3 linked regions of the Homo sapiens genome follow. The protein of the gene in region 1 interacts with the protein of each later gene in a biochemical or structural test. Each region holds a gene or a part of one and is shown in the gene's direction. Other genes may lie near its edges.

The links. The genes of interacting proteins can lie anywhere in the genome.
Region 2: the proteins of SOS1 (region 1) and ITSN1 form a complex in vitro, tested with the Homo sapiens proteins (2 studies listed by BioGRID, with this or other methods).
Region 3: the proteins of SOS1 (region 1) and PLCG1 form a complex in vitro, tested with the Homo sapiens proteins (2 studies listed by BioGRID and IntAct, with this or other methods).

Annotation. Positions count from the first base shown.
Region 1 is NC_000002.12:38,984,962-38,992,063, reverse strand, and holds part of SOS1 (son of sevenless homolog 1), read left to right. Parts: intron 1-2,749; coding exon 2,750-2,794; intron 2,795-4,472; coding exon 4,473-4,591; intron 4,592-5,748; coding exon 5,749-6,240; 3' UTR 6,241-6,700; coding exon of another isoform or gene 6,701-6,754; 3' UTR 6,755-7,102.
Region 2 is NC_000021.9:33,883,501-33,890,500, forward strand, and holds part of ITSN1 (intersectin-1), read left to right. Parts: intron 1-49; coding exon 50-171; intron 172-1,540; coding exon 1,541-1,623; intron 1,624-1,938; coding exon 1,939-2,022; intron 2,023-2,786; coding exon 2,787-2,960; intron 2,961-4,651; coding exon 4,652-4,800; 3' UTR 4,801-7,000. UniProt on the Homo sapiens protein: Adapter protein that provides a link between the endocytic membrane traffic and the actin assembly machinery. Acts as a guanine nucleotide exchange factor (GEF) for CDC42, and thereby stimulates actin nucleation mediated by WASL and the ARP2/3 complex.
Region 3 is NC_000020.11:41,168,543-41,175,542, forward strand, and holds part of PLCG1 (1-phosphatidylinositol 4,5-bisphosphate phosphodiesterase gamma-1), read left to right. Parts: intron 1-224; coding exon 225-328; intron 329-480; exon of another isoform or gene 481-536; coding exon 537-633; intron 634-914; coding exon 915-984; intron 985-1,569; coding exon 1,570-1,727; intron 1,728-3,650; coding exon 3,651-3,747; intron 3,748-3,878; coding exon 3,879-4,103; intron 4,104-4,186; coding exon 4,187-4,335; intron 4,336-4,877; coding exon 4,878-4,992; coding exon of another isoform or gene 4,993-5,109; coding exon 5,110-5,271; intron 5,272-5,380; coding exon 5,381-5,469; intron 5,470-5,581; coding exon 5,582-5,769; intron 5,770-5,924; coding exon 5,925-5,967; 3' UTR 5,968-7,000. UniProt on the Homo sapiens protein: Mediates the production of the second messenger molecules diacylglycerol (DAG) and inositol 1,4,5-trisphosphate (IP3). Plays an important role in the regulation of intracellular signaling cascades.

The DNA of each region.
Region 1 (7,102 bases):
ACTGCAGTCATATGTCATCCCAACATATTCCACTCAAAGCAGTACAAAGTTCCATTGTTTAAGTTTTTCAAAAGGCAGAGTTTGACTAGAATTTTTTTTTATCAGTTATAATACTATACTATTCTTTTTTTACTCTTACGGTTTTTTCCCAAAATAATCTACTTTTAAAAACCTATAATTAATTATTTCAGCCAGTATCTGCTGCATATCTTATTCCTTGCTAAACACTTACACGTCTTCACTGGGAAAGCTTGCAGTCTTACTGAGAGATTAAAAATAATCATAGTGCAAAGAGATTCACAGTTAAACGCTAAAAATAGTGGTAAAGACATAAATACTGGAGAAGCTTATAGAAAGATGACCTCAGAATGAGCAAGAGTGGTCATGGAAAGCGTTGTGGCAAAGACAGGGCAGAGAAGTGGCCACGTACTTAGTGCTGCCACACATACATTCAAAGCCCTGCTCCACACCTTGCCCTGGCCAGGTCCACCTTTGAGGTGATGACGACAGTTGCTGAGAAAAGAGAAAAGACCACTGGCTCACTACTTGTTTCTGCTGCTATAATAGAGAGGAGAAAATGATGAAATGCTCTTTTTACCTTCCTGTTTGAAGATTGCCTGGTCATAAAAGGGAGTCAGAGGTCTGACTTCTCCATTTCCATCCCTTAGGGGACTCTTTAACAACAAAAAGAATGTATTACAAGTATGTCAAGCTGATAACGCAAGGCTTTTCCTCCTGGAAGATTGCTGTAGGTGATGAGTTTCTAATCCCAAATATATTTGCATTTACCAGGCTTTTGTGAGTTTAAGAAGTTATCTATCATATCTTTTTTTTTTTTTCTATAGAAAAATGCTTGTTTCTATCAAGAATGACTCCTTTATAAACTGGGGAGTATCTTTAAGAGTGGTTTCAACCCTGACTGTATAGTATCATCTGTTGAGGAGCTTAAAAAAAATATGTAGGCCCAGCCCACACTAGACTGGCATTGGTACCTGGTATCAGTATTTTTTAAAAACTTCCCATAGGATTCTAATGTACAGCCAAGATTGAGGACCATTTGTCTGTCATCTGGGATTATGCTTAATAAATTAATACTGTTTTTTAAATTAATTAGATTTCACTTCTAAGTCATTATCAGTAAATTTACTCAGTATCTAACTGACAAGAATTTCTAGCATATATTTCTTGATTAGTGCATGTAAAATTCTAAAAGAATTTCTATAGTATTTTCCAGGCAATAAGACAACTAGTGCCCCAAATTTACCAAATGCATGAGTCTAAGCCTGTGCTATATATAAATATACTCAAAGCCAAGTTTACATCTGTGTACACAAGTGTGCATGCATATGTACAATTAAAGACTATAGTTGTAACAGTCATGAGCTTGTGTTTTGATTTTACTCCTATTCCTGTATTGTATTAAGTGTACTATCATGTTCTTGAGGCATATCTCCAGGAGATATGTTTATTTCTTTTCCAGGAAAAGTGGGACATATATAAGTAGGGTAAACGCTAGAGCTAGATACTCCTTTAATCTCTATTACGTCAGATCTCTGGCTCCCTTTTACAACCAGGCAATCTTCAATTATAGGTGGCTAATAGGGAAGAAAATCATCGGCAGAGCAACAGCTTCATGTAATTTCAGAGTAGAAAAATGAATTTTAATCTTCTGAAAGGTAATATTAGAATTAGCTGGATTGCTACACTTAGGAATCATAGGTTCCAAATAAATATCAGTACATACGGAAATCAGATAATGGGACAGATTATTTGAAATTAGGGCTGCCTAGAAATCTGGAATGTGAGATCACCCTCCTTCTGACCAAATATGCTTGAATAAACTTAATATTCCAAATTATGTGAGGGATTGCCTATTGTGCAAAAAAAAAAAAACGAAATCTGAATTTAAAAAAAATTACCACAGTCTAGTATTATTTTAGTCTCTTGGATGTTATAACGTTATCTGTTCCATCTGTTGTTAATATGAGACACTGTACAAACAAACAACTATATTGATTTAGAATCAGTATAGATCACCTAGCTTTTTGTCTCAATTTTCCTACTTTAATGCTCTTGGGGCTTTCGCTTTTGATTTTCAGTTTTTTCCTTAAAATAATTAATATTGTTGAAATTAGACTTTCTAAATTTAAATTTATCAGAATTTCCTATGTAAAATGAGTCTAGGCACCAAATGTTTAATGACTTTAAAAAAAATGTTTATGACTATAAAAGGAAAAACCCTGTATCAATTTCAAGCTTGTTTTATATCCAAAGTGCTAGTTATTTTGTGATGAGAATATATGCCCCAAGAACATTTTTGAAAGACATATAATTAGTAACTTTTTTATTTTTCAACTTACATAAAATAAACTTATTACTTGTTTCACAAGTTTGAGTTTTCAAAATAATATTTACTAAATGGCATATTTATATACATCCAGCTGAACTTTTTGCTTGAATTGGGTTTCTACATTTTAAAAAGTCTTTCAGTAATATACGATTTTTTTATGAATGTTTTTCATTTAATAATTATGAAATCAAGTAAAGCTAAAAGGAATCTTAAATTCCCAATATGATATCATTTTTTTCTTCTCAAAAGTAAGTAGTAATGAGGTTTTACTATAAACTGTTACAGCATTCTTTAAAACGACAATGACAATAACATTTTCATCATAATACAAATTTTTGCAGATGAGTTGAATATATCAATGAAAGAAAAAAATCTACTTTTTCTTGTTTCCTTTCACAGGCAATGATACCGTCTTTATCCAAGTTACTCTGCCCCATGGCCCAAGTTAGTATATTTGGTTTAAGACTCATAATTCTTGCTTTGGCTTTAAAAATCAAACCAAGTGTAACCTTTCCTGCTAAAACTCTTCTTGGGTCTGGCAGCATTGGTACCTTGCTTGCAACATCCTAGAAGTGAGGCCTTCACTTGTGCTATCTTTAGATCATAAGTGATTTGCTTAAATTTATATATTTCTCATGCTTTTTATAAAACCTTGTTTCTCTCTTAAAAGAACATATTAAATAAGTGGCTTCCACATTTAACCATTTCTTTTTTCCAACTATAGAGTTCTAAGTATATTTTAATGCTCAACTTTGAAAAAAAAAAAAAGGCAAGAGCATGCATGCGCATATGGGAATGCTGGCAGCTACATGCAGTTTCTAAATCACAAAATATACTTAGCCTGATGGCAGGATAGATTATAGACAACTGCTTTTGACTTTAGAAGAACTTTCTTATAATTGTAATTATTCAAAGTATAGCCTAAATACTGATAAACAAAATAAAGTTCCATTTTAATTGTAAGGTAAACTAACAAGTCACTAAATTCCATTATTTTAATTATTTAAGCTAATATTTTTTTGCTGTCCTTTCATACAATTTCAAAATATGTACAATGGAAAATACTAGTTACAAGCTGAATTAACTATATTCTTAAGAAAAAAGGTAGGTGATCAAAATGTTGATCATTTAAATAATATCAGTACACAAAGTACTCTTTTTAAGTTCTATATTTTATAACATGTGACAAAATAAAAAGCTTAATGCTTAAAGGGAAAAAAAACTGCCAACTATAATTTTGAATGATGGTTTAAGTATTTTTTTCACATCTTTTTTTATAGTAGGTATAAACAACTAACTTAAGTGTTGTTTTCCAAAGTGTATTTATATGCCTACCTTATGTTCTTGTTACCATAAATGTCTGTAAGAGAGGTTCTAATTAGTAGCTTTACTTACTTTTTTTGTGCCAGTCCACCAACTTATTCTTAAATCAGATTCACTAGATTTTAGTGTAATTTCTGTTTTCATGGTCAGGGCTGCCTCCGTTGTCTTGAATAGTGCCATCACCGTTAAAATTTTTGGATTTAGAGTATAATGAGCCTCTTTTTGCTTACAGGCAAAGGGGAGCCTATAACTAAACAAAATGAGGAGAGGCCCCTCACCTAGACACTATGATTCTTTCCCTTGCATCCTTTGAGAGAAATGCTAGGGAGAGACATTGGAGAGAGTGGTTAAGAGCACACACTCTACTCCCAGGGACTATCCAGTAAGGTGGGGAAGTTCTATAAATTCTAATAAAGTCAAAGAAAAAAATGAACCCATTATAGAATCTAAAAATTACCATTCCAAAGATTTTCAGTAGCTCACTGTCTCCCAGACATCTGAGAATCAGACTCAATTAAAAATTTCAATAATAGAGTAACCATGGGAATGTTATTTTGTTCAGGCAAAATAACAGAATACCTTAGGCAGCTTTTTTCTAAATATTCTGCTAAAAAATGTCTGCATGCTTTTATGGCAGTTTGCTTTAATGAAATACTATTCGGTATTGGTTTATTGAACAGCTTTTGGTATTTCTACACATTACTTTTAATTATAAGCAATTTCCAGCTAAGACTTTTCAAGGTAAATAAATGAAATAAAATTCCTGTGGACTTTTTCTTAAAAATTTAACATCCCACAGGATCTGCTTCTGTATCATCTATAAGTTTAACCAAAGGCACTGATGAAGTGCCTGTCCCTCCTCCTGTTCCTCCACGAAGACGACCAGAATCTGCCCCAGCAGAATCTTCACCATCTAAGGTAAAGTAAGAAATCTTGTTGTGTAGAAATTGGAATCATTACAGTTCATTATAATAAACGGCTGTCTAGTTTAGTTCTCACTAGGATAAGTTAACATTTCAGAGTATACAGGCTTAATAGTTTAAACAAGGATTACATATAGATTTAGCATGCAGTAATGTTTCTTTCTTCTGAAGGTAGTTTTTTGGTATGCATTCAAGACCCTTGTAAACCTAAGGCTATGGTTATTTTCAGAAAAAAACAAAAGTTTTAATCTGTAAAGTAAGAGGAATTTGGTTTCAAGCAGTTCTTTAAAAGCATACAGAGAAAGTCCTGAAGCTTTGTATGAAGGCACATTATAAGTCAAACTGTATTTTGACATATGCTAAAATTTACTTATCTGAGCCCTTAATAGTAAATCTGACATACTTTTAAATGGAGTTTTCATGAAAATTCTGGGTTTGGAAGAGACCCCAAAGGCTCAAAATAGCTATTATTTCTACTTATTTAATTTTGTTTTTTTCTTTTTGGCCAGCTGTTAAACTTAATTCATTAGTTCTTAAGCTGTCCAGAGTGCAGAGCACCAGGATAAGTCAAGACAAGACACTCTTTGTAGAACTTCATGAATGTTAACATAGTTAACTTAAAATTATAAAATAGGTACTTTATGCTAAATTAGAAATGATCTTAGATTGAGTGATAAGCTAAGCAAGCAGTAGCAAACAAAATTTTGAGGAAAAAAATTTAAGTAAAAACTACGGCAAACTTTTTTTTTCTATGAATTGACAGAACCTCCCATTTAAAACATATGCCAGCCTTGGCAACAGAGCAAGACCTTGACTCTACAAAAAATGAAAAAAATTAGCCAGGCATGGTGGTACATGCCAGTGGTCCTTGCTGCTTGGGATGCTGAGGTCGGGGGATCACTTGAGCCCAGGAAGTTGAGGCTACAGTGAGCCATGATTGCACCACTGCACTCCAGTCTGGGCAATAGAGCAAGGCATTGTCTCAAAAAAAAAAATTTTTTTTTAATTAAAAAGAAAACATATGGCAAAACTCCCTGTTCCACACTTAGCATCCTGCCAATAGCATGTTTGAAAACCCCAACTTAATTCTTATAGTCATGATACTTCATAAATTTATTAATAAATGTGTATTTTATTCTTTTCATTTGTTAGATTATGTCTAAGCATTTGGACAGTCCCCCAGCCATTCCTCCTAGGCAACCCACATCAAAAGCCTATTCACCACGATATTCAATATCAGACCGGACCTCTATCTCAGACCCTCCTGAAAGCCCTCCCTTATTACCACCACGAGAACCTGTGAGGACACCTGATGTTTTCTCAAGCTCACCACTACATCTCCAACCTCCCCCTTTGGGCAAAAAAAGTGACCATGGCAATGCCTTCTTCCCAAACAGCCCTTCCCCCTTTACACCACCTCCTCCTCAAACACCTTCTCCTCACGGCACAAGAAGGCATCTGCCATCACCACCATTGACACAAGAAGTGGACCTTCATTCCATTGCTGGGCCGCCTGTTCCTCCACGACAAAGCACTTCTCAACATATCCCTAAACTCCCTCCAAAAACTTACAAAAGGGAGCACACACACCCATCCATGCACAGAGATGGACCACCACTGTTGGAGAATGCCCATTCTTCCTGAGTTCCTCTGTACTGGGATGTATATTTTCCTAGCCCCAAATCCATTGCTGGCAATGGATGCACTGAATGTGCCAGCACTGAGGAGTTAAAATGAGAACTCCAAACACTAACGACTCTTCTTCAAGATGCAGTATAAGACAATGAATTTTAACCTAGATGTAATTATACAATGGAAATGGTATTCCAGTTTAGAATATGGAAAGACCGACCTAGAGGAATTGGACAACTGATTGCACCTGAAAATCATAAAGGGACTTTTTCTGGCCAATAGGCAGGAGTCCTCTTTTTGTGAAGTGATCTTTTGTGAAGTGATCATTAAAGGGATGGAAAACACAGTCTAGTGTCCAGCAGGCCCACATGACAGTTTTTGTAATTCAAATTATGCACTTTTAAAAAAAAAAACTTAAACAGGGATCTTAATATCTTCCTTTGTTTTCCTTTGCTTTACTCTTCTACTTTAGAATATTTTCTTAAAAATCACTCAAAGGACTGTGAGGAAAGGCTGTGGTACCTGACCTTGTTGAAATCAAGGCCCGGCACTGTACTACAGGCCTGTTTACAGATTATTACGGTGAACTGAATGGGTACCGAGGCTTCACCAAAGAGGTACTTTTTTGTTGTTGTTGTTGTTTTAGGAATAATTGTACCAATTTTAAGAGCATTCCCCCCACCTGTCCCCACACACCCAAACAAAATGTGGTGGTGTTGCCTTCAAAAAAGAGAAGTTTTGTGTCATTAACATGACAGAAGAACTTTTTAAAAAAAAATAACTGTCAACTATTCTATTTGCATTTAGGAGACTGTTCATCTATGCTAGATTGTCATTTTCCCTCCTTCTCCCACAGAAGTTTACTGGTAGTCCA
Region 2 (7,000 bases), on another chromosome or scaffold:
CACACAGACCCCCAGCCTCGCTTTGTAATGCCTGTGTGTTACTTTCCAGCCTATTTTCCTAAATGAGGTTCTAGTAAAATTACCCACCGACCCTTCTGGAGACGAGCCCATCTTCCACATCTCCCACATTGACCGCGTCTATACTCTCCGAGCAGAAAGCATAAATGAAAGGTGAGACCTGCCGCCTCCCCAGCATGGGCCCCAGGGCTCCACGGCTCTAGGACACACAAGGGGCGGGTGATTAATCAGGTGCCAATGTTTCCCAAGTGGCAATGCCATCACCCCTAGCTGGGAGTGGGGATGGGGCTATTACTTTTTTCTACAGCCTCTCAAAAATCTGTCACATGGCATGCCCTTTCCAAAATAACATGGATTCAAACTAATTTTGCTTGAGTTTTTTTTTTTTTTTTTTTTTTTAAGGCAGAGTCTCACTCTGTCACCCAGGCTGGAGTGCAGTAGTGCAGTCACAGCTCACTGCAGCCTTAACCTCCTGGGCTCAGGTAATCCTCCCACCCTAGCCTCCCAGGTATGTGGGACTACAGGCATGTGCTACCAAGCCTGGCTAATTCTTTATATTTTTTTGTAGAGATGGGTTCTTGCCATGTTGCCCAGGCTGGTCTTAAACTCCTGGGCTCAAGGGATCCACCCGCCTTGGCCTCCCAGAATGCCAGAATTCTGGGATTACAGGGGTGAGCCACTGCACCTGGCATTGTTGTTGTTGTTGTTGTTGTTTTATTAAGAAATGTTTCGCATTCTTTGAGGTAAACAGAGCATCTCAGGTTTCCCCTGGCTTCCCAGGTGGCAGAAACCAATAGGAAAGTAATTTCGGGGTTAATAGGACCACGCAAACCCAAACCTCTCCTCACCTTGGCTGACTTAAATGGGCATTCTGGAACCTAGGGCTGTGGGTATTTTGCTTCAATCTGTCTTCAAGACACTGCCCTGGAGCCAAATGAAATAGATCATTTTCTGAAGGGTGAACTTGACACAAGGCCAGCATCATTCCAAAGAGCATTTGCACCAAGCAAGAAAATTGGCTAAAGCTTTTGTGCATATGGTTCTCAGAAAAAATGAAGGAGAAAACCGCGGCCACAAATGCCTTCCCCCAAGGCGTTTTGGTCTTTCGTGTGAAGTGGTTCCCAATCTGGGAAGTGGTTTTTGTTCTTTCTTTGCGTGATTTCATAAGCGAGATCCTTCTGGCTTTGTTGGATTAGGCAAATATGTGCTGCTCTTCGGTAAGGAAGGAAGAGGAGTCGTGTCCCGATGTTGCCTCCAAGACAGCATCTATCACAGATTTTCTTCCCCGGGGACATCATCGCAGGTCTTGAGGACATCCATGGAAATGGCCCTCATGCCTTTCTTATCGATGGCAGGAATAAGTATTAGCGTCACGTGACATAAAATCAGATTTTCTTTCCCGAGCCTTTGTTGTTAAAATCAAATGAACAAAGAAACAGAGTCCTGGCAACAGTGTTTGAACAGACCTGAAGCCTTTTTCCTGAGTTTCTGTTTGGCAACTTTCTGTCTTTTTCTGTCCAAGGACTGCCTGGGTGCAGAAAATCAAAGCTGCTTCTGAACTCTACATAGAGACTGAGAAAAAGAAGCGCGAGAAAGCGTACCTGGGTAATGCATGGCCCCGCGGGGTGTCCTGCACAGCTGGGCAGGAGGGAGGGCCATTTGGCTGGGCTGAAAATCCTCAGAATAGAAGAATCCCCTGGACCTAGAGGAGGGGCATGGAATGAGATGGAAGTGAGCTTGGGGTGGGATGCAGATGGGGATGGAGGGCAAATTCCAGGAGCAAGGAAGCAAGTGTTTAAGGAGAGGGAAGAATTACTTTTGAGTCGGGAGAGGTACATGAAATGCATTGTGAGGCTCACAGAGATGGGAAAGGTGTGGCACGTTCAAATGAAGCATTTTGTGTTTTTCCTGCCGTCATAGTCCGTTCCCAAAGGGCAACAGGCATTGGAAGGTTGATGGTGAACGTGGTTGAAGGCATCGAGTTGAAACCCTGTCGGTCACATGGTAAGGCTGTGAGGCGCCCCCGGCTCCTGCTTTGGGGTTGGGAGTAGGGTCCGGGTTCCCCACACCCCCACCTGGCTCTAGATCAAATGTGCTATTTCCATACTCCCTGATCTCCTTCCAGAATTGGTTTAACTAGCACTTGTTAAAAACCTGGAGGTTTTGTGTTTTTTTTTCCATCCTTTCTACCATTCTGCTTCTCCGAGGGATCTGAGTGGCTGCATTCACAGTGGATGTGACACAAGATCAGGCCAAAGTAACGAGACAGGAAGGGCCTAGTTTCAAAGCCCACTCAATTAAGTATTTGTTTTTAGTTTAAGGATGAAGCTGACTTCTGGGAGTTTCCACCCGGATTCTCCACCGAATGACACTTATTAAGCATAGCAGTTATTAAGAGTGGGGAGCGGCCGGGCATGGTGGCTCACACCTGTAATCCCAGTGCTTTGGGAGGCCAAAGCAGGTGGATCACCTGAGGTCAGGAGTTTGAGACCAGCCTGGCCAACATGGTGAAAGCCCGTCTTTACTAAAAATATAAAAAATTAGCCAGGCATGGGGGCAGCCACCTGTAATACCAGCTATTCATTCAGGAGACTGAGGCAGGAGAATCACTTGAGCTCAGGAGGTGGAGGTTGCAATGAGCTGAGATCATACCACTGCACTGCAGCCTGGGCGACAGAGCAAGAATCCATCTAAAAAAAAAAAAAAAAAAGAGTGGAGATCAAAATGAGGTGTGAGTTCCACCTGGCGAAGGCTTTTGTTCCCTCCAGGAAAGAGCAACCCGTACTGTGAGGTGACCATGGGTTCCCAGTGCCACATCACCAAGACGATCCAGGACACTCTGAACCCCAAGTGGAATTCCAACTGCCAGTTCTTCATCCGAGACCTGGAGCAGGAAGTCCTCTGCATCACTGTGTTCGAGAGGGACCAGTTCTCACCAGATGGTGAGTGGAACGCGGCCCTGTGGTTATTCCTCCTTCCCTGGCACTCGTTTGCGTGGGTTAATGTTTTCTTACCTGGGGACTTGGTGCCAGGATTCCTTCGGTTTCCCTCCTGAGAGATGAGGCTGGCTGGCACAAGACGAGGCTCTGTCTCCCCTGGAGGAGTCTTCTGGAGGCGTCTCATTGCATGTGGACAGAGCATGCTTGGTCTAGAATTGTGCCAGCTGCCCTGGGCAAACACGTCCATCTTCTGCTTTCCAAAGCAGGTGACTGTGGAGAGGGGTGTGTTTAAGAGCCTCAGCATAGTTCTTCAGTCCTTGGCAAAAAGCTGTGCTGGCAATGGATGAAACTGGCCAATGGAACAAGGATGTTAGCCCACAACAGGAGCCGCAGAATGGGCCAGGTCCCTTTGGGTGGCATTTTTGTACCACTTATTAAGTAGGCAAAGGGATGCAGTCATGTTGAATGAATCATTTCTTCAGCCAGCCTTCTGTTTCTGCTTGGGCCTGGAAAAGAATAGTCTCAGCCCAATGATTCCAAGAAACTACCTGTCTCTCCCTCAACCCAATAAAAATCACCGGTGGGCATGGTGCTGCAGGCCTGGAATCCCAACACTTTGGGAGGCTGAGGCAGGAGGATCGCTTAAGCCCAGGAGTCTAAGACCAGCCTGGGCAACATAGTGGGACCTTGTCTCTACAAAAAAATACAAAACTTAGCCAGGCATGGTGGCATGCACCTGTAGTTCCAGCTACTCGGGAGGCTGAGGCAGGAGGATTGCTTGAGCCTGGGAGGTCGAGGCTGCAGTGAGCCATGATGGTACCACTATATTCCAGCCTGGGCAACAGAGCAAGATCCTGTCTCCAAAAAAAAAAAAATCACAGAGTAAGTTAAAAGATTATGGTCTCAACTTAATTATAACCGAAGAAGTGAGGGTCAAATGCTAGCATTATCTGTACAAGGTTTAAATGGCTCCATATGGCCTTCATCTTTTAGTACTTTTTATATGAATTATCTCATTGTGAGTTAGGTACTCGTTGTGGTAGCTGGTTAAATGTTTGAGTGTGACTGGAACAGTTTGGCTCCCAAGTCTGGGCTCTTAACTACTATGTGTACTGTCAACTTCTAATTCTTTTTTCTTTTTATTTTTTTTATTTATTTATCTTTTTTCTTGTTGTTCTCGCTCTGTCACTCAGGCTGGAGCACAGTGGTGCAATCACAGCTCACTGCAGCCTCCACCTCCCAGGCTCAAGCAATCCTCCTGCCTCAGCCTCCTAAGTAGCAGGGATGACAGGCATGAACCACCATGCTAGGCTAATTTTTAAAAATTTTTTGTAGAGACAGGGTCTCACTCTATTGCCCAGGCTGGTGTCAAACTCCTGGACTCAAGTGATCCTCCTGCCTCGGCCTCCCAAAGTGCTGGGATTACAGACGCGAGCCACTGTGCCCGGCCACCTTCTAATTCTGAGAGATAAAGGTTGGGGTTGGGTTTTTTTTTTTATTTAAGTAATGAAATACCATGACACATTGGCAACTCCGCTGGGGAGCGAGTTGGAAATCCTAGTGTTGGTTTACATCAGAGCCCAGAGAAGAAGGGAGAGCATAACAGTTCATCAGGGGGTCCCCAATATGCCAGACATGTGCCTCGAAGAGAGGGAATGGTCCCTCTTAGGAGGGTCTGTTTGTTCTCTTTTCAGATTTTTTGGGTCGGACGGAGATCCGTGTGGCGGACATCAAGAAAGACCAGGGCTCCAAAGGTCCAGTTACGAAGTGTCTTCTGCTGCACGAAGTCCCCACGGGAGAGATTGTGGTCCGCTTGGACCTGCAGTTGTTTGATGAGCCGTAGGCAGCGGGCTCAGGGTGTGCTCAGCAGGGTCCCAGCCCACGGCCACACATGCTGTCTGGAAATTGTATTCCTTTTCTAAGAAACCACCATTTGGTATTCAGTCACAGGGATATGGGATGGCAAAGACAGGCCCCTCAAAGCTCCTAGGAATCATTCTCGACAATCCTCCCTGCCCCGAAACAATTTCCTGTTTCATGAAACAAAGCTGTGTTTTCCTTTGTCCTCACTACAGGTCTCATTATGGCTTCTAGGGTCGCTGAAATCCCATAGCCCTCAACAGGGTGCAGCTGGGAGTCTAGCCCCTTCCCGGGCTTGAGGGATGGGTCTGGTTACTATAAAATAGATTTATAAATGCAATGTCTATATTTTTGGAGAACTCATGTAACCCTCCTGTTTCTTACATCCACCAGTCCCCAAGTAGACTTCTTGGCCTACAATGCCCAGTCCTTGGTGTGAGTTTAGAAACAATTATGACGGTCCTGTCATTGCTTCAGAATCCCATCTCTCCTGCAGGGAAATGCTGCCTAGAGCTGATCACTCGGTGAGACGGTCTGATCAGGCCCTGGCTTAGCTCTTTGAAGAGCTGGTCTATGGAAGTTTCCAGCATGTGCACCGTTATAGCCGTTCCTTCCCCCTCTAGGCCTTGTATTAATATATGTCAATGAAAACACACTGGTGTATTGTTGCGTGGATTCAGTTCTGATTCCCAGCATGCTTAGAATATGGTCACAGAAAGTCATTATCTAGAAAGTCACCCCTCTGCTGGATCAGATCACTACAGGTCACTGGAAAGGCAACTTTACAATGTTGGGTCACTGGGTCTCGGTTGGCAGCCATGTTGGAAAAATCTCTTTTGGCTCGGAGGCCTGTGATATTTCATAGCAGCAGTCGTTGCTGGTGACCTGTTCTGTGCTTGAATGTGCTGAATCCTGATTGTTGTAGGACATTTCAACAGCTCTTTTTGGTACGTTCCCCAAAAAGCCATGTCCTAGATCCCCAAGGCGTGAAAAGGAAAAATATCAAGCTGGAGGTTGGGAAAGAAAATGAAGGCAGTCCATTATGTGGTGGGTGAAAGACCCTAGGAGGATGCAAGCCCCGCACATCCCGGGGCAAAGACCTAAGACACTTTTCCACCCTCCACCACCCCAACCTCACATAATATGCTTGTTGCAAGAGTCAGGACTTTATGACTATGTGCCAAGCTGTTTGGTTTGAGTTCTTTAATTTTTTTTTCCCTTAAATGCCAGGAGATCATCTGGTTAGTTAGATAGTAACTTGATTTGCTAATGAAAAGTGGGGGCCGTGTTTTGTTTGCATGTTAATATTCTCATAATCCTAGTTTGTTGTGGTCATGAAATGTCCTTTGCATGTTCTGTTGGTACTGGAGTCTAGCTTTCCTGTACTAGATGGTGTTCTCTTTGATTGTAGGTCCTTAGACTTTAATTAGGGTTATCAAAGTGCTTTCTAAATGATAGCATCAGCGTTGTGGCAGAGTACCTCCTTTGCTGGGAACTGAATGTGTAGTGTTATCATTTCCCATGAGAGCCCGGTCATACTTCAAGCAATTTTTTTAAAAGTGTGTGTTGGAAAGGACAACAAAGTTTACATTTCATACTTTTAAGAAATACTTTATTATTTATTTATTGAAGATAGTGTAGAATTTTGTATCAAGAACAACAGACATAAGTATTTTTTGAAACAAGCAAATATACCCTGTAGTTAGAAACTTTCAACTGAACATGTTAGAGACCAAGTTTAACTTCAGGCATGCATTTGTTTACCATTTCCCAGCAGAAAACATGGTTAAAATACTTTAAGTTTATATTTTTTGATGTTGTTAAGAAACTTTTAAATTAAATCTATAAATAGACATGCAACTCATGCTTTCCTATTTCTATAACCAACACCGTTTGTTTAGTGTATTTATGAAAGATATGCTACCATGGTAGAAAGAAAAGTATTCAATGTGTAAATGGGGTAGTGTGGGTCACCATTCCGATCTCTTTTTGTTTTCTGTCCTGTCTTTTCTTCATTGACTTTATTTGCGTGTTAATGTTGGACATCATTGTTCATGTAGGTAGCGTATGGTATGCACAATGACAAACAATCGTTTTAGGTCCCAGGTCACCCACTCATAGTGTCCTATTATTGGAATTAATGTAGCATGAGAAAGCAATATGTGACTCTTTTTCCTCAAGTG
Region 3 (7,000 bases), on another chromosome or scaffold:
TTTCACTGGCAGAGGCCCTGCCTCTCTGATCATATCTGTCCTGGAGCTTCCCTGCAGGGCAGTAACAAGAACTATAACTAGGGCCTGTTGATGGCAGTGTCATCTCCCACTGGCCTGACCCCAGGCAGGGAAGCCCAAGCACATGTGTGTGTGCACATGAAGCCCCAGGTTGGCAGTGGCAGGGAGAGCCTTTCTGCTCTGACTGGTGCTTCTCACCTCTGCAGTGTGCAGTCAAAGCCCTCTTTGACTACAAGGCCCAGAGGGAGGACGAGCTGACCTTCATCAAGAGCGCCATCATCCAGAATGTGGAGAAGCAAGAGGGAGGCTGGTAAGCCAGTGGTGTGGTAGGCCCAGAGTCCAAGGGCCCCAGTGGAGCTGGGGCCCCAAAGACATGCATTTGTGATGTGCTTGTCTCCTGTGTGCACCAGCAGTGCCTGCCTCACCCTGGCTTAGGCATGGGAACCCCTACCAAAGGATACCCTCCTCATGGGAGTTCGGGGTGGTTGCTGGAGGTCAGCACCCTGTGGCTCCCACAGGTGGCGAGGGGACTACGGAGGGAAGAAGCAGCTGTGGTTCCCATCAAACTACGTGGAAGAGATGGTCAACCCCGTGGCCCTGGAGCCGGAGAGGGAGGTAAGACCAGAACCACCTGAGTAACAGCATTCCCTATTCCCAGATTCTCCTTGGCATGCCCCCATCACACAGTCCCAAGCACGCACGTGCATGCACAGACACCTGTCACATGGGCTGGTCGCACAGCCCATGTGGCCATGCACGTAGTCTCCCATATACCTGTGCTACATTTGGCAGTCACAGGTACACCCACAAGATGTATTTGTCCCATGCACACGGATATCCCCTCACACACATATGCAGTAGCCATGCTGACCATTGGTGGGCTTTGCTTCCCACAGCACTTGGACGAGAACAGCCCCCTAGGGGACTTGCTGCGGGGGGTCTTGGATGTGCCGGCTTGTCAGATTGGTGAGCTCCCATCTGTTTCTCTTGCCCACTGTTCCCTAGGGTGAGATTCTTCTTTGTATCTCTTTCCTGCTCCTAGGGAGGAAGCTGATGGCTGAACCCCAAAGTCTGCCCTCACTCCAAGCTCTCCCCATGCTCTGGACATCCCCTTGACACCCTGGGCTCCCTTTGTCACTGTCAGCTTTGACCCCTGCATGTTTACCTATGCCAGGCACTGGGGAACCCGTCAGAATCAGCAGAACAAAGTTGATGCTGCTGGTTGGCTGACATCCCCAGGCCTAATGGGTTGTACCACAGGGATGTGACAGAGGCTTGGAGATGGGGTGGAGAGGGAGACACGGCCTGAGGAAGAAGCATGAGTCAGAGCTGAGTTGGAACACTGGCTCCACCACAACCAGCAGTGACTTGTTTGAGTTGTAGCGTCGTCATCTGTCAAATGGGCCAGCAGAGTAGTCCTTCCCCTCATGGGGTGTGGGAAGGAGGAAATGGGATGAGATAGAACTCATTTGAGCCAGTGCCTGCGGTGTGGAGTGGGGTGGAGGGGGTGAGATGTCTATTCCCAGCTGTTATCTGCTCTCGCCCTCCCAGCCATCCGTCCTGAGGGCAAGAACAACCGGCTCTTCGTCTTCTCCATCAGCATGGCGTCGGTGGCCCACTGGTCCCTGGATGTTGCTGCCGACTCACAGGAGGAGCTGCAGGACTGGGTGAAAAAGATCCGTGAAGTGGCCCAGACAGCAGACGCCAGGGTGAGATTCTGCTGGAACCTTCTGGGGGGCAGTGTGTGGGCCCGTCAGGCAGCTGAGGCCTCCAGCTCCCAGCACAGGCCCCCTCAGAGCAGTGGGGCAGCCGATGGCCTATGCTAGATAGGCCACAGCCCCTGCCTTAGCTAGGGATTGAGAAGAAACAGACACATAAGATGCAATGTGGTGTGTTTAGGTTGTGTTGAGTTTGAGATACTGATGGGTCGTTGAAGTGGGTCTGCTTAGTGGGCAATTGGATACACAAGACCAGAGGTAAGAGGAGAAGTCCTGGGCTGGAAGCAGGAGTGGAGTGGGGGCTGAGGCATAGAAGGGATGAGGTGGTGTCGCATAGGAAGAGAACTTGGGATGGATTGAGAAGCTCCATATGAGAAGGCATGGGCGAGGAAAGGAGCCCAGGAAAGGCAGGTCAGACAGACTGCAGGCCACTGGTGAGGGAGAGGGTCTGCTGTGTTGAGAGCTACAGAGGTAAAGACAGGAACGATAAGAACTTGCAAGTGCCCTTTGGATTCAGCAGCAGCTAATAGCCCTTGTGAGACTTTTGAGCTGCATCAGCAGCATGGCTGGCATTAGATGGCAGTGGGCAGCAGGGAGTCTGGAATGGCAAAAGCAGAGCCTTTGTAGGGCCTGTCCTTGAGGGAGAGAACAGGTGACTGGGGTTTGAGCAGGCTCTCATGCAGATGGCTGAAAGGAGCGAGCAGCGTGTGGGAGGAGATGGAGCCCAAGCTTAGCTGGTAGGACCAGCCTTCTGGAGAAGGTGGCCTCTTCCCCTGAGCCTGGGGGAACAGAGAAGTATTCTCAAGGGTTAGGGAATTCCTACTTGGTGGCCCTTTCACCAAGTGCATTTGGTAGATGGGTCTGTAGCTGCTTTGGAGAGGGCACCCGCAAGCCAAATAGAGAAGGGATAGGGTGCTTGCCAGGCTGTCCCCTAGAAGGAAAAGGTGCTGGCATACCAGGTGGTTGAAGGACTGGATCTGGGGGTCTAGGCTGAAAAGGGAAGAGTCTGAATGTAAGAGCCACTGAGGCCGGGCGTGGTGGCTCACGCCTGTAATCCCAGCACTTTGGGAGGCCGAGATGGGCAGATCACTTGAGGTCAGGACTTCGAGACCAGCCTGGCCAATATGGTGAAACCCTGTCTCTACTGAAAATACAAAAATTAGCCGGGCATGTTGGCCGGCACCTGTAATCCCAGCTACTCGGGAGGCTGAGGCAGGAGAATCGCTTGAACCCGTGAGGTGGAGATTGCAGTGAGCCGAGATCACGCCACTGAACTCCAGCCTGGGCGACAGAGCAAGACTCTGTCTCAAAAAAAAAAAAAAAAAAAAAAAGCCACTGAAAGAAAGTCCTCCAGGAGAGGATGGGTTGGGGTGCTTGTAAGTGGGCTTCTGTAGAGATTTGGCATGGAGATTTGCCATGAAGAGTGGGTGGTTATATTTGAGTTGGGGGCGCTGAGGCAGTGAGGATCATCCTTAGGACACAGATGGAAACCAAGCCAGGGGCCTGTATCCCCAGTGCAGTCACAGGTAACACAGAAGAATCATTTTTACCCCAGCATGAGGCTGGGTAATAAATGGTCAGAAAGTGTCATTTGGGAGTGTGGCCAATTCCAGGATCCCTGGAAGGTCACTGGGAACATGGGTGGTGATGAGGAGTCTGTATCCCCCACCCCCCCTAAGAGGGTTGGAGGGCAAATGTGTCCTCTGGGACAGAAAAGAGGAAAGATGATTTCAGGATGAGGCTGAGGACAGAGCTCCCTCATTTACTGTTGGGTGTGGTGTCTGGAAGGTACAGGGGAAGGTGGGAGAGGGGCCCAGAGCACCTGCAGTGTGGGCATGCCCAAGGTTGGCAGGGGCTTCCTTCTCCTGGGCAGGGCTGTAGCCTGGGGCTACAGGGCCTTGTGTGTGTCACCAGCTCACTGAAGGGAAGATAATGGAACGGAGGAAGAAGATTGCCCTGGAGCTCTCTGAACTTGTCGTCTACTGCCGGCCTGTTCCCTTTGATGAAGAGAGTAAGGGCCAGGGCCCAGGCGGGGTGTGCATGTGCCTGGAGGGCCTGGTGGGTGCAAAAAGAGTATTTAGGTATCCCCCCAACACTTCCTGGGTGGGCGGGCTCTGTAAGTGTTTTCCCTGTTTGGCCCAGAGATTGGCACAGAACGTGCTTGCTACCGGGACATGTCATCCTTCCCGGAAACCAAGGCTGAGAAATACGTGAACAAGGCCAAAGGCAAGAAGTTCCTTCAGTACAATCGACTGCAGCTCTCCCGCATCTACCCCAAGGGCCAGCGACTGGATTCCTCCAACTACGATCCTTTGCCCATGTGGATCTGTGGCAGTCAGCTTGTGGCCCTCAACTTCCAGACCCCTGGTGAGGAAGTCCCCTGTGAGGAGGGTGAGGAGGGGCACTGTGGGGCAGCTGGACTGGAATACACCATAATCTGCCTCTTCCAGACAAGCCTATGCAGATGAACCAGGCCCTCTTCATGACGGGCAGGCACTGTGGCTACGTGCTGCAGCCAAGCACCATGCGGGATGAGGCCTTCGACCCCTTTGACAAGAGCAGCCTCCGCGGGCTGGAGCCATGTGCCATCTCTATTGAGGTGGGTGCTGCTCATCTGGGCTTCAGGGTAGGAAAGGGGCTGCTTGCCGTTGGAGTCTGTTTATGTTGAGTTCTCCAAAAGTAGGTATTTTCAGGCATCAAGGTGGTCAGGGTGGGTGGGGCCTGAGCTGAGTCTTTGAAGGGGTGAAGATAGCATGCAGTCACTGTATGCATCTAGGACGTGCAGAGCCATGGTGTGACTTGTTCTGATGACTTGTTTTGTTCTGATGAGATCTTTTTTTTCCCTAAGGGGAGGTCATTTAAAAGATTTCTGTGTTAAAATAGTAATGGATTTAACATGAAGTAGATTGCAAAACTCACATGGAAATTTTGGCTAAAGCTCAGACTTCAGATAAACTACAGGCAGCAGCTGCTCTGGACAGCTTAGGGTCCCTGATGTCGTGAGGGACTCCATGGGCAGTGTCCCGGGGGCCCAGCAGAGGGCGCGCTGCCTCCACTCCACAGATGCTGACTGAGCCTCCGCAGTGGGGAATTGGAGGGAGCAGGAAGGACAATCCCAGGCCCTTCTTTGTCTGCCTACAGGTGCTGGGGGCCCGACATCTGCCAAAGAATGGCCGAGGCATTGTGTGTCCTTTTGTGGAGATTGAGGTGGCTGGAGCTGAGTATGACAGCACCAAGCAGAAGACAGAGTTTGTGGGTCAGTCTGTCTTCCCAGTCATCCTCCTCATCCTGCTGGGGCACTGCAAGCCTCTCCCCACCAGTCATCCCATCCTCTCCCACGGTGACCTGAAGCCTTTTGTCGTTGCCTTCACAGTGGACAATGGACTCAACCCTGTATGGCCAGCCAAGCCCTTCCACTTCCAGATCAGTAACCCTGAATTTGCCTTTCTGCGCTTCGTGGTGTATGAGGAAGACATGTTTAGTGACCAGAATTTCCTGGCTCAGGCTACTTTCCCAGTAAAAGGCCTGAAGACAGGTGAGGACCATTCCTGGAGGCAGTGCCCCTGCAATCTTGCTGGCAGGGTGGGGCTGGGCCCCTTGCTCTGTCCCTCGTGGGCTGAGGGCCAGGCTTTTCCTCCTCCTAGGATACAGAGCAGTGCCTTTGAAGAACAACTACAGTGAGGACCTGGAGTTGGCCTCCCTGCTGATCAAGATTGACATTTTCCCTGCCAAGGTATCTGCAGCAGGGGTGGGCTGGCCTGGGGTAGGTGGGAGGAGAGCCAGGCAGCAGCCTCTAGAAGTGCAGAGGAGTCATTGACCCTCTTGTGCACCTGGCTTCGTTGAAGCAGGAGAATGGTGACCTCAGTCCCTTCAGTGGTACGTCCCTGCGGGAGCGGGGCTCAGATGCCTCAGGCCAGCTGTTTCATGGCCGAGCCCGGGAAGGCTCCTTTGAATCCCGCTACCAGCAGCCGTTTGAGGACTTCCGCATCTCCCAGGAGCATCTCGCAGACCATTTTGACAGTCGAGAACGAAGGTGAGGAAGATGGAGGGGTGCTAGAGCCAGGAAGGCAGTGGCTAGGTCCTCCTTCTTCAGTGTTTCTTTCTCCTGGGTAGAAAAGTTGTAATATTGTCTGGCATTGGGCTGCAAGGCCCTGCCTGCCAGTAAGGACACTCTTCCCTTCTGTCCAGGGCCCCAAGAAGGACTCGGGTCAATGGAGACAACCGCCTCTAGTTGTACCCCAGCCTCGTTGGAGAGCAGCAGGTGCTGTGCGCCTTGTAGAATGCCGCGAACTGGGTTCTTTGGAAGCAGCCCCCTGTGGCGGCCTTCCGGGTCTCGCAGCCTGAAGCCTGGATTCCAGCAGTGAATGCTAGACAGAAACCAAGCCATTAATGAGATGTTATTACTGTTTTGGGCCTCCATGCCCCAGCTCTGGATGAAGGCAAAAACTGTACTGTGTTTCGCATTAAGCACACACATCTGGCCCTGACTTCTGGAGATGGATCCTTCCATCTTGTGGGGCCAGGACCATGGCCGAAGCCCCTTGGAGAGAGAGGCTGCCTCAGCCAGTGGCACAGGAGACTCCAAGGAGCTACTGACATTCCTAAGAGTGGAGGAGGAGGAGGAGCCTTGCTGGGCCAGGGAAACAAAGTTTACATTGTCCTGTAGCTTTAAAACCACAGCTGGGCAGGGTGAGAAGCTAGATGCCCCTGCAGTTTGGCCCTGGAGCCAGGGCAGAGGAATGTAGGGCCTGCATGGAGAAGGGTTCTGCCCTGCCTGAGGAGGAGGACACAGCACAAGGGCACATTGCCCATGGCTGGGAACATGACCCAGCCTGAAAGATACAGGGGATCATGTTAAAAATAGCAGTATTATTTTTCGTCTCAATGGTATTGTAACTAAGTTATTTACTCCTCCTGCTCCTCACCCCTGTAGGGAAACCTTGGAGAGGAGAGTGGCAGGTGGGCTGCCTGCTGTGTTAAGAGGACTTAGTTTGTGATGTAAGGCACTGTCAGGAATGGGGGGCGGGCCAGGGTGGGAAGAGAAGAAATAGCAGAGCCTATTTTGGTGAGGTTTTTTGTTTTTAAGTCAAAGAAGACTCAGTATGCTTTCCCTGAGGAATGAAAAAGGGATTGAGGAGTTGCCTGACTCCTGGGTGGGTGGGGTACAGGCAGTTAGGTGCTGAATGAAGCTGCCATCCTTGCTGCAGCTTCTAACTGGTAAAAAGATCCAGGGATGGAGATGGGAAGGTTAGAAAGGCAGCCCT